Regions from separate parts of the Homo sapiens genome. Here region 2 is linked to region 1. Evidence: fine-mapped expression QTL. A gene starts in region 1. The other region holds a variant in brackets. All regions are shown on one strand. Distances are between the middles of the regions. Region 1 holds the start of CRADD (CARD and death domain containing adaptor protein). Region 2 overlaps CRADD (CARD and death domain containing adaptor protein).

Region 1 (2,917 bases):
AGAGCAAGACTCTGTCTCAAAAACAAACAAACAAATAAACAAAAAAGCAAAGAGCATAGTTACAACATTTTGGAGCTGGTTCAAAGTGATCTTTCTGAGGCCTACCTGCAGGCAGGTCGGTCATGGCCTCTTCCCTTGCCTTCTTCAGCTTCTCCCTGACCCAGGGAAACTCCTGTAGGGAATCTAGGAATGTATCAAATGCTTTAGGGCCCCTGGAAGGTAGGATATCCAGCAGGAGCATTGTTTTCCGGAGGCCTGTGGTTTGAGCATTGATTTCTTGAATATGGTTTTCCGTCAAGATTCCTTCCTGGTAGAGGTACTGAAGAACCAGTCCCTCCACCAATACCTCTGCACCCAGCTCCAGGCGAAGTGAGCGGAGTACTTGTTTGTCTCTGGCCTCCATTTCTCCCTGGAAAGAGCCAAAATCACAGCTCAAATTACAGACATGTTGATGTGGCCCTAAAGACAGTGTCACTGCAATGTAAGTTCCTTCAGGTCAAGCACATCTTTAAACCATAGCAGACTGCCAGGTCATGGTATTTAATTCACTGATTAAGCCAAGCCAGGTTAATTTTGAATGTTTCCTAACATAATGAACAACAATGAAGATGAATCATCTTTTCTGTTTCTGCTTTTCACACAATGGGGTCCCAGCTCAATTCCTCGTTCAATAAAGAAATTTGGAAAAAGAAAAAAAAAAAGTGGGTCAGAGACCCTTCTGAACAAGCAATTTTTATCTGAAGATTACAGAGCAGCACTAATTTTAACACGCTGGAGAAGAAATGGTGGTTTTATTTTCACATTGCCCTCATCAGACCTGCACCACCACCACCAAGGCAGAAACTGCCAAGGTGGACGCAGGTCCCCTTTTTTTGATCACAAGTATTTGCAAAACCTGATCAGTAATAGGAGTGCAGGACAGAAATCAGCAGGTTCAGAATTTAAGGCTCTTTTCGCTAAAAGTCCTCTACACGATCACCTTTAAGAAAATTGTTGTTTGTGCCCAGTCTACAATAAACTTTACACAATATACAGTCACAGACTCCATTCCTTCCCACTAAGAATTCCGAATCTCCAGCACAACACTGTCGTGGCCGCACATGCATGGGACATTTTATGGGATTTTTTTCTTTCAAAAAAAGCACACACCCCAGCACTGGTCAGTAGCCAGGCACGATTTGAAGGTGCAGTTCCACCACCCCTGCACCAGTGTGCTGTGGCTTGGTTGTGTGTAAGGCAGTGAAGGTTAAGTGACCGGGAAGGCAGGCAGGGATGACAGATGGGGCTTCAGACACACCCGGGCAGTACGACCACGGCTAGGCGACACCCGATCCCACACTCCCCCTCGCAACCCTGTAAAGTTCAGGAGGTGACAGGTGAGGAGGGGAGGTGTTCACGTTTGGCCGTGAGCGCCCATTGGGAACTATTTAAAAAGGCTCTGCTTCGGCCGCTGAAACCCTTGTATCAAACAGGAAGACTACGGGCGGTTTCTGCGGCAACTTGACCCGCTAAAGAGGGAGTGCTGGGAATGAACTAAAGAGCGGACCAAGGGGAGAGCGGGCCTCCGGCACTGCCGCAGCCACCCAGCCTTGGCCCGGATCGGAAATGCGGAGCAAGTTAGCGGGGCGGGGAAGCCCCCGCAGGGCCCAGGTCGCAGACGCTACAATGCAGGACTTTCAAAGAAAGATGGATTCCTGTTACTTACGTCTGCAACCACGTATCTTTGGGGCGGGGGAGAAAAACTGCAACCGGAATCCTGACTGTTAGGGAACCTGCCCCATAAGCACCATCTTTGTTAATGGCGAAAACCCTAAACAGGAAGTGTTGACACCATCTTTGTTGAGGGCAAGTACAGGAAGTGCTGTCGCCATTTTTATTGAGCGTTCAAGGGTCGGATCGAAGCTCTTCCCGCCATGCTTACTGTGGGTAAACAATTCAATAGCGGGGAGATGGACAACCGTAGTGTCACTTAAAGGGTATCTAAGTAATGGAGTAATTGAATCATTGCATTTTAACACAGTAACTCCATCAGGGCCTCGCACACAATTGACCTAACAGAGAGGCAGGTCAAAAGCCACCCTAGTAGAGAAGCCTTCTCTGACCTATCTGATTAAAACGGCAAGACAGCTGCGCTCATTTCCTGCACTCCCCATTAACCAGCTTTATTTTTTACGCATCACCATCTTATTAAAACTTTTCACTTATTCATTTGTTTATCCTTCTGCTTCCCTCCATTAAAATGCAAGGTCATTTATTTATATCAAGGGTTCCTGCCCGCAAAGAGTTTACAAATCTGTCAGTCAGGATTTCATTGCAGCACTCAGCTAGTTACTCCTAGTCAGAAAGGGATTCGTTAGGGGGAATTGGGGACATTCGAAATCATTGGAAAGGCTGGAGAAGGGCTGAGCTGAACATCCATGGATGACTACCTAGATAAGATTGCTGATTGTGGCTGCTGCCCACAATCAGGAAGATGGCGTCAGGAAGTTGCCATGCCTGGTCCCCAACCTCCTCTCAACACCGACAGAACAATTAACAGGACACTGGAACAGTGCTGCAAAAAACGGTGGTCTCCACGGCTGCATTTGCCAGCAGCAAGAAAACAGCACCTGCAAATCTTGCTTTGCTGCGTGCCATTGGTGAGACCAATCTGACATGCAGAATATTAGCAGCAAGGATGTCTAGAGCATGTAGTTGGTAGCTTTCCAGCTTGTGAAACACAAAAAGGTATAGTAAATGAGGGAAGGCCTGACACTTAAAGCCAATCTACTGCATCCACCACATTTTCAATGTGGAAAGCAAGAAAAAATGCATGACCCAAATACAGAGAAACACAGCAATGCCAAATTGGGTGTCCTTCCTCACATTCCTTTGTGAAGCGAGGCAGGCGATCAATAAATACATTCATTGATTCATT
Region 2 (2,917 bases), 150 kb before region 1:
GCCGAGGTGGGCGGATTGCCTGAGGTCAGGAGTTCAGGACCACCCTGCCAACATGGTGAAAACCCCTCTCTACTAAAATACAAAAAATCAGCCAGGTGTGGTGGCGGGCACCTGTAATCCCAGCTACTCAGGAGCCTGAGGCATGAGAATTGCTTGAACCTGGGAGGCAGACATTGCAGTGAGCCAAGATCATGCCATTGCACTCCAGCCTGGGTGACACAGCGAGGCTCCATCTCAAACAACAACAACAACAACAAAAAACCAAAACTTTAGGGAGCTGATGAAAGAGCTGACCCTAAAAGCAAATAAAAGAGCCCATCCATCAGAGGCTGCACAGTGGTAGCAATGGACTGAATTTGGCCCGTAGATGTGTTTCATTTGGCCTGTCCAGTTCAAAAAACTACAGAAAGAGCATTTAAAAATTGAGAGGTTTCACAAAATTCCAGATTTGTAGCTTTGCTTGTCAGCTCACCAGAGCCATCCTCATCCTGGCTACCCCCAGCATCCACTCTCCTACCACGCATGAGAAAGCCCAGTCACTGAGCTGATCTCCCGGGTCCAGGAACTTGCAAGCCTTATAGGGGTTTGATTTCTGCCTCCTGTACCAGATAATGGTAGAAAATCCTACACAGCATAATAGTCTAAAGCTTGGTGGATGAGCCTCCAGCCAGCTGGGGGAAGGAGAGCATAACAAAACAGACTCTTTTCACTCAAGGCAGCACAAACCCTCCCATGTGTCTGTGGTCTTTTCCCAGGGGTAAAAGACTGCCTGAGATAACTGTCTTTCCTCTCTCTGGAATGACATTGAAAAAAAAAAAAAAGGTGAAATCATAGGAAATAAGGACCAGAATTAGAACATTTTATTTTTCCTTGTATCCTTTGGCATCAAATAACACTATTTTTCACAGATGGGTTTTCAATAAACTTCGGAGCAAGGCTGTGGAAAATTTTTTAAATGCTGTATGGGTCTTAAAATGCCAGTTGTTCACATATAAAAATGTGTTTCCTCCCATGAACACATCCCCCTGGAAAGCTCAATCACTCCCGATCAAAATGACTTCCAATCAAAATCCAAACATATTTTTAAAAATAGAAATTGACAAGCTGATTCTAAAATTTATAAAGAAATGTGAAGACCTTAGAAGAGCCAAAATAATTTTGAAAAAGAATGCAGCTGGAATAATTACACTCCCTGATTTTAAGACATCCTAAAGCTATAGAAATTGACAGTGGGTATTAGTGAAAAGGTAGACAAATAGATCAATAAAACAGGAGAAAGTTCAGAAATAGATTTACACCCATGTGGAAACCTTTTGACAAAGGTGCAAAGGCAGTTCAATGGAGAAAGGATAGTTTCTTCAACAAGTGATGCTAAAACAACTGACTCTCCATACGCACAAGCACACATGTGCATACACACATGCAGACATACACAAGAATTTAAGGCATACCCCATATCATACACAAAAATTAATTCAACATGGATCATAGACCCAAATGGAAAACCTAAAACTATGGAACGTCTGGAAGAAAACATAGATGAATTATTTGCTTAGCTTAGGCAAAGACTTCTTTAAAATGGCACCATACTAAAAGCATGATCCATAAAAGAATAAATTGATAAGCTGGATGTCATCAAAATTTAAAACTTCTGCTATTTGAAAGACACTGTTTAGAAAATTAAAAGACAAACCACTGACTAGGAAAAAATATTTGCAA[A/G]TCATATCTTGTAAAGGACTTGTATACATATATATATACAAATAATTCTCAAAGCTTAACAAAAATAACCCAATTTTTTAAATGGGCAAAGATTTGGACAGACACTTCAGCTAAGAAGATACATGGATGGCAAATAAATACTTAAAAAGACACTCAACATCACTCACTAGAGAAATGTAAATTAAAATCACAATGCAATACCACTCTACTCAAATTAGAATGCTTGCCAGTCACAGAAAGACAAATACTACATGATTCCACTTATTTGAGGTATCTAATATAGTCAAACTCATAGAAACGGAGAATAGTGGTTGCCAGGAGGGAACCACTACTGGGGGAAGGGGGAAATGAGGAGTTGCTGTTCAACAGGTATGCTTTCATTTATGCAAGATGAGTAATTTCTAGGGATCTGTAACATTGTACCTATACTTAACAATACTGTATTGTGTAGATCTCATGTTAAGTGTTCTTACCACAATAAAATTGGTTAAAATAAAGAAGACTGAAGACAATGTTGGCATAGATATGGAAGAAACGGAACTCTCATACACTGCTGATAGAATCATAAAATGGGACAAACACTTTGGAAAATGATTTGGTAGTCACTTAACACGTTAAACATACATCTACCATATAGTCTAGCCATTTCACTTCTAGGTGTTTAATAAAGAGAAAAGAAAGCCCATGTCCATGCAAAGACTTGTAAATGAATGTTCCCGGCAGCTTTATTTGTAATAGCCGACGAAACAAATGTCTGTCGACAAGTGAATGCATAAACAAACTATGGCATATCTGCAAAATGAAATACTGTCCTACATTAAAAAGGGACAAAGTATTAATATGCACTTCAACATGGACAAATCTAAAAATAATTATGCGGAGTGCAAGTTGCCAGACAAAAGAGAATGCTGTAGAACTCCATTTATGTGAAATTCTAGGAAATGAAACCAACACATAATGACAGAAGGCAGATCCGTGTTTGCCTGGAGATGGGGGTGATGGGAAGAAGGAATTATAGAGGGACATGAGAAAACTTTTAGGAGTGTTGGATAGGTTCATCATTCTGACTGTGGCAATGGTTTCATGGGTGTATAAGTGTGTGGAAACATCAAATTACATACTAAGAACTTGTGCAGTTTACTGTATGTCAATTATACCTCAATAAAGCTGGGGGTTTTTTTGGGTTTATTTTGTCCCC

The links. PIP is the estimated chance that this variant, and not a neighbour inherited with it, causes the effect.
Region 2: its variant is fine-mapped to the expression of CRADD in whole blood (INTERVAL, PIP 0.90).

Annotation. Positions count from the first base shown.
Region 1 is chr12:93,676,261-93,679,177 of GRCh38, reverse strand. CRADD (CARD and death domain containing adaptor protein) reads right to left here and starts at 1,803. Exons shown (of 3, transcript NM_003805.5): 1 at 1,706-1,803; 2 at 106-409. The coding sequence starts at 403. RefSeq lists enhancers at 1-115, 932-1,746, 1,719-1,958, 1,747-2,562.
Region 2 is chr12:93,827,030-93,829,946 of GRCh38, reverse strand. All of the region lies in intron 2 of CRADD (CARD and death domain containing adaptor protein), which reads right to left. Among named protein-coding and RNA genes, the nearest start is that of CRADD-AS1, 91 kb to the right of the region's middle. The variant A/G (reference allele first, on the strand shown) is at 1,720.